2 separate regions of the Homo sapiens genome follow, and region 1 is linked to region 2. The links come from fine-mapping of genetic effects on gene expression. A gene starts in region 2. The other region holds a variant in brackets. All regions are shown on one strand. Distances are between the middles of the regions. Region 1 overlaps LOC124902793 (a long non-coding RNA gene). Region 2 holds the start of NFRKB (nuclear factor related to kappaB binding protein).

Region 1 (5,230 bases), 98 kb after region 2:
AGAGTTCTATTTCTTCCTGATTTAACCTAGGAGGGTGGTATATTTCCAGGAGTTTATCCATCTCCACTAGATTTTCTAGTTTGTGTGTGTAAAGGTGTTCATAGTAGCCTTAAATGGTCTTTCATATTTCTGTGGTATCAGTTGTAATATCTCTCATTTTATTTCTAATTGAGCTTGTTTGGATTTTTTCTCTCTTATTTTCTTGGTTAATCTTGCTCATGTTCTAGCAGTTTTGTTTCTCTTTTCAAAGAACCAGCTTTTTGTTCCATTTATTTTTTTTAGTTTAAATTTCATTTAGTTCTCCCATCTTTGTTATTTCTTTTCTTCTGCTGAGTTTTTTTTTGTTTGTTCTTGTTTCTCTAGTTCTTTGAAGTGTGACCTTAGATTGTCTATTTGCATTCTTTCATCCTTTTTGATGTAGGTGTTTAATGCTCTGAACTTTTCTCTTAGCAACACTTTTGCTGTATCCCAGAGGTTTTGAAAAGTTGTGTCACTATTATTCAGCTCAAATAATTTTTAAATTTCCATCTTGATTTTACTGTTGACCCAAAGATAATTCAAGAGCAGATTATTTAATTTACATGTATTTTTTATACTTTTGAGGGTTCTTTTTGGAGTTTTCAGTTTTATTCCACTGTGGTCTGAGAGGATACTTGATATAATTTTGATTTTTAAAAACTTACTGAGACTTGTTTTGTGACCTATTATATGGTCTATCTTGGAGAATGTTCCATGTGCTGAAGAAAAGAATGTATATTCTGCAGTTGTTGGATAGAATGTTCTGTAAATATCTGTTAAACTATACCTTGGTGCAAATGGACTTAAGTCCATTGTTTCTTTGTTGACTTTTGGTCTTGACGACCTGTCTAGTGTTGTCAGTGGAGTACTGAAGTCCCCCACTATTATTGTGTTGCTGTCTGTCTTGTTTTTTAGGTCTAGTAGTAATTGTTTTATAAATTTGGGAGCTCCAGTGTTAGATGCATATATAGTTAGGATTGTGGTATTTTCCTGTTGGACAAGGCCTTTTATCATTATATAATGTCCTTCTTTGTCTTTTTAAACTGTTGTTACTTTAAAGTCTGTTTTGTCTGATACAAGAATAGCTACTCCTGCTCCCTTTTGGATTCCATTGATGTAAAACGTCTTTTTCCATCCCTTTACCTTAAGTTTATGTGAGTTTTTATGTGTTAGGTGAGTCTCTTGAAGGCAGCAGATAGTTGGTTGGTGTATTTTTATCCATTCTGCCATTCTGTATCTTCTAAGTGGAGCATTTGGGCCATTTACATTCAATGTTAGTATTGAGATGTGAGGTACTGATGTTCTATTCATCGTATTAGTTGTTGCCTTAATACCTTGTTTTTTTCCCCACTGTATTATTGTTTTATAGGCCCTGTGAGATTTATGATTTAAGGAGGTTCTATTAATATTTTGGTGTATTTTGAGCTTTTGTTTTAAGATTTAGAGCTCATTTAAGCATTTCTTGTAGTGCTGGTTTAGTGGTGACAAATTCTGTCAGCATTTGTTTGTCTGAAAAAAGACTTTATCTTTCCTTCATTTATGAAGCTTAGTTTTACTGAATACAAAATTCTTGGCTGAAAATTATTTTGTTTCAGGAGGCTAAAGATGGGTCCCCAGTACCTTCTGGCTTATCAGGTTTCTGCTGAGAAGTCTGAAAAGTTTTCCTACACAGGCTACCTAATACTTTTGCCTCACAGCTCGTAAGATCCTTTCCTTAACATTCTTGACTTTAGACAACCTGATGATTATGTGCTTAGGTGATGATCTTTTTGTGATGAATTTCCCAGGTGTTCCTTGAGCTTCTTGTATTTGGATGCCTAGATCTCTAGCAAGACCAGGGAAGTTTTCTCAATTATTCCCTCAAACAAGTTTTCCAGATTTTTAGATTTCACTTCTTCCTCAGGAACATCAGTTATTCTTAGGTTTAGCTGTT[G/T]GGAGGGTTTGTTCATTTTTAACTTCTTTTTTTCTTTGTCTTCGTCTGATTGGGTTAATTCAGAAGCCTTGTCTTTGAGGTCTGAAGTTCTTTCTTCTACTTGCTCTAGTCTATTGTTGACCTTTCCAATGCATTTTGTGTTTCTTTAAGTGTATCTTTCATTTCCAGAAGTGATTTTTTTCATTGTGACATCATTTCTCTGGAGAATTTTTCATTCATATCCTGTATTGCTTTTTAAATTTCTTTAAGTTGGTTTTCACCTTTCTCTGGCATTTCCTTGAGTAGCTTAATAATCACCCTTCTGAGTTCTTTATCTGGCAATTCAGAGATTTCTTCTTGGCTTGCATCCATTGCTGGGGAGCTGGTGTGATCATTGGGGGTATTATAGAGCCCTGTTTTGTCATATTACCAGAATTGCTTTTCTGTTCTTTTCTCATTTGGGTAGACTATTTCAGTGAAGAAATCTGAAACTCAAGGCCTGCTGTTCAGATTCTCTTATCCCATGGTGTGATCCTTAGATGTGGTGCTCTTCCCTTTCCCCTAGGACTGGGGCTTCCTAAGAGCTGGACTATAGTGATTCTTACTGCTCTTCTAGGCCTAGCCACCCAGTGGAGCTACCAGGCTATGTGCTGGTGCTGGGGAATGTCTGCAGAGTTCTGTGATGTGGTCTTTCTTCAGGTCTCCCATCCTTGGATCGCAGCACCTTCTCTGGTGGAGGTGGCAGGGGAGTGAGGTAGACTCTATGAAAGTCCTTGGTTGTAGATATGTTTAGTGTGCTGGCTTTCTGTAATGCTGGTTACACTAGTGGTAAAGTTGTCACATGAACACACACAGGACCTTTGGTTAGCCAGGATGTTTCAGGAAGTGGAATTAGGTGTTGTCTTTTCCTTCCTGGGATCAGGGTTATTCTGTCATGAGTTACTGTGGTGGCCTGAGTTGGTTGGCCTCTAGCCAGGAGATGGTGCTTTCAAGAGAGCACCAGCTGCAGTAGTCGTAGGGGGCTCTAAGCTTGCCCTAAGATGGTCAGGGTAAGTATTTTGGATACTCAGGTGATTGGCAGGGCCATAAAGCTCCCAAGAGTTTCTGAGTTTTGTGTTCAACTACCAGGGCAAGTAGGAAAATACCATCAGGTTGGGGCAGAGTTAAGAGGGTCTAGGCTCAGATTCTCCTTGGGTGGGGCTTGCTGCAGCCACTGTGAGTGATGGAGGATAGTTCTCAGGCCAATGGGGTTATGTTCCCAAGAGGATTTTGGCTACCTCCACTGTATCATATAGTTTGCCAGGGTAGTAGGAGATAGCTGGTAGCAAGAGGCCTGACCCAGCTCCCACACCATTGGTCAGGCCAGCCTCTCTTCTGCAGTGGACCATTCAGACCTTGCCCCAGGCTGTGAGCTTACCCCACTGAGAAAGCAAGCACGGCTTTCAGACCTCGCCTCTCTCCATCTGCCTACTTCATTGGCAGCACCTTGTATCCACAACACCTCCCACTCATCACCTGGACTCCACTCAAGAAAATTTGTGCCCAGTTGAAACCACTACCAATTTCACTTGGGAGGTTTCTTCACCCTGTGGCCCTTCCCCAATTCCACTGGCTGCCTTCCTTGAGGGCCTCTGTAAGATATACTCAGGGATGGCTTCCCTGGGGTTGAGCTGGAGACTTGGAGTACATCCAAGGCACTTCCCAATGCTACTTCTACTTTTCTACTTTGTGTGAATCCCTAAATCCATTTAATCTCTAGGTAAGGTTAAATTCTTCTCCTGTGATCTGGATTTTCGGATTCCCCAGTGGGGATGTGTATTCAGAGGTAAGTTTTCCCTTTCTCACACTTTGGGAACTCACAGTTTTTTTGCCTGTTTCATGAAATTTGCATTGGCGTGCTGCTTCTTTCAAAGGCTCTGTGAATTTTTTCGCTTTTCCTGGTATGTTCCTGCCATGGTTCTTAGAGCAAAAGATCATGGTGTGAGTCTCCACATGCTGTTCTGTCCATCCATGTGGGAGCTGCACATTAGCTCTGTCTCCTAGCTTCCATTTTCCCTGATTTTAATTTTTTTTTTTAAATAGAGATGAGGTCTCCCTATGTTGCCCAGGATGGTCTCAAACTCCTGAACTGAATTGATCCTTCTGCCTTGGCCTCCCTAAGTGCTGGCATTATAGGTGTGAGCCACTGCACCTGGGTGACAAACCAGTTTTGAAAAAGTAAGTCTGACTGTTTAGGTTCGTTTTACAGGTCAAGTTAATCTTCAATCAAGTAGTTAAAAGGTAAATTACTAATAATCAATTATAGAATAATACAATAATACCAGTTAATTATTACCAAGTTGTTTTAGTATAATAGTGGGACAGATTAGTGGGTTTCTTTTTATAATCTTTTTATTCATTTACACCGAGGGAATATAGCATCTTTCATCCAAAGAACTGAACATTTAATCCAAAGAACTGAACATTTTAAAACATGAGCATTTAAAAAGCGATTATATTTTGAAAACCTGGAGTCTTGCTGTTAAATCTCTTTGATTCCAGATACACAATTTTCTGGAAGTCATTATATTAGGGACAATGAAAGAGGCTCAGAAAGAATTCTGATTTCCTTTCACAATACAGTCATTTCCCAAAACCTAGTGCTGGGCTTGCAAAGCAAAAACACACAAATCTTACAAAGCAAAAACACACAGATTTTCCTTGCAGTGACCAATATTGCAAGAAAAATTAGTGTTCTTAAATGAATGTAATTATATGTGGAACTTAGCAAAGGCAAGGATGGCATTTTAATTCAATGGGAAGTGGTTTATGTGTTGCTAGTATAATTGACTATTATTTTGGAAGATCTTATCATAGAGTTTCTCATTATCTAATCTCTCCTTGGCCATCCTGGTGCTAGCCATCCAGAATAAGTATTATTATTTTTTCCAGCTAATATGGTTTGGCTCTGTGTCCCCAGCCAAATCTCATGTTGAACTGTAATCCTCAGTCTTGGGGGAGGGACCTGGTGGGAGGTGATTGGCTCATGAGGCAGATTTCCCACTGCTGTTCCCATGATCATGAGTGAGTTCCCACGAAATCTGGTTGTTTAAAAGTGTGCAGCACTTCTCCCTTTGCTCTCTCTCTCCTGCCGCAATGCGAAGACATGCTCATTTATCCTCCACCCTTCTGCCATGATTGTAAGCTTCCTGAGGCCTCCCGAACCATGCCTCCTGTATAGCCTGTGGAACTGTGAGTCTATTAAAACTCTTTTCTTTATAAATTACCTAGTCTGAGGTAGTTCTTTATAGCTGTGTGAGA
Region 2 (5,222 bases):
TAGACAACAAGCAATAACAAACAATGTAAGGAGAGAGATGGAAATCCTAAGAATGAGCTAAAATGCTAGAGATAAAAAATGAAGAGTAGGCTGGGCACGGCAGCTCATGCCTGTAAACCCAGCACTTTGGGAGGCTGAAGTGGGTGGATCATTTGAGGTCAGGAGTTCAAGACCAGCCTGGCCAACACGGTGTAACCCTGCTTCTACTAAAAATACAAAAATTAGCCAGGCGTGGTGGTGGGTGCCTGTAATCCCAGCTACTCAGGAGGCTGAAGTGGGAGAATCGCTTGAACCTGGGTGGTGGAGGTTGCAGAGAGCTGAGATTGCGCCTCTGCACTCCAGCCTGGGTCACAGTGCAAGACTCCACCTCAAAAAAAAAAAAAAAAAAAAAAAAAACATGAAGAGTAGCTGTGAGAGGCTAAATGGTAGACTAGACACATCTTAGGAAAGAATTGCTGAGCTTAAGGATATCTCAATAGAAACCTCTATAACTGAAAGACAAACAATATCCAAAAACTGTGAGATGATGAAAAAAAGGTATAACTATGCCTCATGGGAATACTAGCAGAAGACAGAGAAAGGAACAGAAGAAATATTTGAAGCAATAATGATTGATTATTTCCCCAAATCAATATGGAAGATGAAACCACAGATCCGGGAAGCTCAGAGGACACACAGGATAAATGCAAAAAAATCCTTCAAAACCAAAAAACAAATGAACAAAAAATGACTTTTCTTCAGAAACTGTGCACACAAGGAGCGAGTGGAATGAAATGTTTAAGGTGTTGAGAGAAAAAAGCAGTGTCTAACCTAGAATGCTGTAGCCCATGAAATTATCCCCCAAAAGCAAAGGGGATTTGTTGCCAGTAGACCTGCCTTGGAGAGAATGTTAAGTTTTTCAGAGAGAAGAAAAATGATAAAAGTCAGAACCTCAGATCTATATAAAGAAAGAACATCATTATTACCTTTAATAATGAAGGTAAAGGAAAAGTCTTACTTATTCTTTGTTGTTTTATTTTTCTTTTTACTTTTTTGAGACAGGGTTTCACTCTGTTGCCCAGGCTGGAGTGCAGTGGTGCAATCACAGCTCACGGCAGCTTCGATCTCCCTGGCTCAAGCGATTCTCCCACCTCAGTCTCCTGAGTAGCTGGGACTACAGGCACGTGCCACCACACCTGGCTAATTTTTTGTATTTATTTTAGTAGAGATGGGGTTTCACCATATTGCCCAGGCTGGTCTCCAATTCCTGGGCTCAAGTGATCCACCCATCTCAGCCTCTCAAAGGGGAAGATCCTGGGCATTGGGACTGAGGTGTTTTTGATACGTTCATGCAAAGATGCCTGGAGTGGGTGGTTGGATTTCTGGGTTGTTTGATTCATAATTGCTTGATTCATAATTGCCAAAACCTGGAAACAATGAAGATATCTTTCAGTAAGCGAATAGATAAAACTGTGATATATCGACACAATGGAATATTATTCAGCACTAAAAAGAAATAGGAGCTATCAAGCCATGAAAAGACATGGAGGAAACTTCAATGCCTGTTACTACGGGAAGGAAGCCAATCTGAAACGGCTACATACTATGTAATTCCAACTAGATGACACTCTGGAAAAAGGCAAAACTATGGAGACAAAAAGATCAGCGGTTGCCAGGGGTAGAGGAGAGGGAGAGATGAATATGCAGAGCACAGATGATTTTTAAGACAGTGAAATTACTCTGCATTATACTGTGATGGTGGGTAATGATGTATCAATGTAGGTTCATCAGTTCTTTTGTTTGAGATGGAGTCTCGCTCTGTCTCGCTCTGTCGACAGGCTGGAGTGCAATGGCTCAATCTCGGCTCACTGCAACCTCCGCCTCCCCGGTTCAAGCAATTCTCCTGCCTCAGCTCCCGAGTAGCTGGGACTACAGGTGCCCGCCACCACGACCGGCGAATTTTTGTATTTTTAGTAGAGACGCGGTTTCACCATGTTGGCCAGGATGGTCTCGATCTCCTGATCTCGGGATCCGCCCGCCTCGGCCTCCCAAAGTGTTGGGATTACAGGCGTGAGCCACCAGGCCGGGCCGGGTTCATCAGTTCTAAGAAATGTACCACTCTGGTAGAGGATGTTGATAAAGGGAAGGCGATGCATGTGGGGAGGTGGGGCGGGGAGTATTTGGAAAATATCTTTCTGCTCAATTTTGTTAACTTTAAACCACTTTAAAAAAACAAAGTCTATCAAAAATTATAGTTTACATTGTTTTTACTCTTTTTCTCTTTCTGGTCTTGTCACAATCTCAAGGTAAGGGAAATATCGGTGACAACTATAGAGTGATATTCCACTGCCATTTATACTCGATAGTTTCTAATTCAAGAGCCTCTCAACAGTGTAACAGGAACTTAGAGCATATGTGGAGCCAGTAGAGGAACAGAGATCGGGTTGTTTGGAAACTACTCTCTTCCAGGAAGGGAAGAACATTAGCTCGGCCGGCCGGCTTCTCTGGTCCCATCCACACACAGAACTGAGGATGGTCTCTGCGCCACTGCTGGGAGTACCTGGAATAAGTAGTGTGAAGCCGTACTAAGCAAAACCCAGTGAATAACAGGAAAGGGGCCTTCATATCTAAGAAGAGGAAAATGATGGAGTTTAACTTTAAAATGTGATCCTTCGATGTGTTTACATTCTTTCTGGACATCGAGGGCCCGGGGACGGGAAGGAGGAATGAAGGAACTCGGAAGCACAGGCTGAGGTCGCGTTCTACTCATGTCCTCAACTGTAAAATGGGCACTAATAGTGCATAGCTCACAGGGCTGCAGCACAAAGACGGTGGGTAGAAAGTGCTTAGCATAGGGCCTGGGGCAGGGTATGCTCTCTGCAAACGTCAGCTAATAGACGTGCCTTCGCTCACGGGCTATGGAACTTTGATTCGCGGTCAGGCAAAGACAGGCACTGTCTGGGGCCTCTGGAAGCTCCTAAATCAGGTGAGACGCGCAAGCAGGCTGGAACCTGCATCCCCAGGCCCAGCCGCGCGCAGGCACCCTCGCCGACCCTCCGCTCTCCCGAGCCGCTCCAGGACCCGCCCGCTGTGGCCCCGCCCCGGCACCCTCCAGGCCCCGCCCCGCGCTGCCCCGCCCCTTCCGCCGCGCAGGCCCAGAGCGTGCGCGCACCCAGACTCCTTGCGGGAGCGAGTGCGTCTGGGAGCCCGCGGCCGGAGAAGGGCTGCGGGTTAGGGGGCCGGCGCCCGCGGTTCAGGTGAGGGCGGGCAAGGGGCGGCGAAAGGGTTGAAGTGTCTCCTGGGAGTGGAGGGAGCGGGAGCGGGCGGCTGGGTCCGCGAGGTCGCTGCCCGTGTGGGCGTGGGGAGCGGGAGCGGGGCGTGGGGAGCGGTGCGACGCGTGAGGCTGGGGGTTAGGGTTAGGCACGGCGTGGGGGAGGGGCGGGGCCGAGCCGTGCAGTTCTGAGGATTGGACCCGGGCCTTGGGCCAGCCGGGCTGGCACCGGAGGGGAATTTGCTGCAGAGTTGAGGGCTTTGGAGCCGGCGGTTGCTCTGGAAGGACCCGAGGGTTTAGCTTCTGCGTTGGGGAGGGTCCAGCGGGGAAAGTTAGACCAGGTGCTGAAAGCCAGTGATGAGAGGCCGAGAGGCCTTCGTGGTCTAGTGAAGAGGTTCAGAACGCCCGAAGATCTGGAAATCCTTGGCTTCCGGGGTCCAACTCCCTGGCAGCTGCCTGGTTTTGGTATTTTGAGATTCTGTTCAGAATAGTGGCAGTGCAAAGGTTGTCAGTGGACTAGATTAACTTTAGCTAGACACGCACCGTCACTGAAGAAACTTGTGAGCAAGTTGTATAGAGACCTCCTAAGAGGCAGGTAGGACACTGACTTTGCAGTTGATAGTCTGTTCTATGCCAGTTCTGTTAAGAAGGTTTTATTCTGAGCATCAGGTTGCTTCTGCAATTTTTTTTTGGTGCTATTTTGAAGTTTTGTTAAACTCACATGCTATGTGCTGTCTCACCCGCTTCACTTATTTAGGCATAGGCATGATGAGGATGTCATTTCACCATGTGCTGAAGGGTGATGAGGGGGCACAGTTGCTTGGGGACCACCCACGTGACTTGACTCAACGCTTAAGTTTCTGCTATATCTTTACATGGATCTGAAATCTCTTCAAGGGAGCTTGAAATAATTTAGTGGAACATGCTTCATTTTACATATAGTTATTCTAGAACTGTTCTTTATCATTGGAGAATTTTGGAAAAGAAAAGTACCTGTATTACGTAATTCACACTGTCACTCATCTAGAGATTATTCATTGCAGGATTCCAGAATTGGAAATAACGGGAGGGAGGACCTGGTCCAGCTTCCCTTCCTCAAATAAGGAAATTGACACCTGGCGTGGTAAGATTTGTGGAATGTGGTGTTTGTGGAATGTGGAATATGGAATTCTGGTGTTTTGACTGTTAACATCCTTTTTTCTTTTCATTTTAGTATGCTTTTTAGCCCACTTTGTAGGAATAGGAGCTGGAAAGGATGGATTTAGTAAATGTTGGTAGAGTGATTGAGTTTAAGCTCCCTGTGGTCCTGTTAGCATTGTGCAGTCCTGTGCTATCAACTTGACCCCTAATCCCAGCCATCAGTCTGAAAATGTTGTGGTATGTAGTTTTCTGAAGGTGATCAGCAGTGTTCTGTTATTACACGAAGGAGAAAAGTAGCATTAATTTACATGATTATACGGATCAAATGGACCAACTAAAGGCAGATTGGCCATTGACTTTACTGGTGGTTATGGTCAGGTGTGTGGAACCTCAGGAATTTATATGGACTAATAAAGTCATATCAGTAAGGTTCGTTTTTATTATTTAAATGTTGCGAGGTTATACAAGAGGTATTGTGTGTAGCATTAAGCACATGGGTTTGCAGGCAGGTAGACCTGAGTTTCAGTACTGCCTCTGGGGTTGGGCAAGTTACTGACCTACTCTGATTTTCAGTTTTAATTCCGATGTAATAACCCATGACCTTACTTTGCACAGTTGTAGGAATTAAATGAGATATGTGAAAGGCCTGGCTTTTAATAGGCCCTCATAAAGTGACTGTTAGCATTTGCATTTTACTAGTGTATGTTGATTTTCAGCAAATTTTCTTTTGTGAAAGAACAACAAACAATATTCTTTCTCTTTTTCCTTTCCTTTTTTTTTTTTTTTGAGACAGGGTCTCTGTTGCCCAGGCTGGAGTGCAGTAGCGTGATCA

Evidence for each region.
Region 1: its variant is fine-mapped to the expression of NFRKB in whole blood (TOPMed, PIP above 0.99).

The regions. Positions count from the first base shown.
Region 1 is chr11:129,795,992-129,801,221 of GRCh38, reverse strand. All of the region lies in intron 1 of LOC124902793 (a long non-coding RNA gene), which reads left to right. Among named protein-coding and RNA genes, the nearest start is that of TMEM45B, 17 kb to the left of the region's middle. The variant G/T (reference allele first, on the strand shown) is at 1,952.
Region 2 is chr11:129,893,510-129,898,731 of GRCh38, reverse strand. It overlaps NFRKB (nuclear factor related to kappaB binding protein), which reads left to right and starts at 3,154. Exons shown (of 27, transcript NM_001143835.2): 1 at 3,154-3,236; 2 at 4,294-4,373. RefSeq lists a silencer at 2,998-3,437.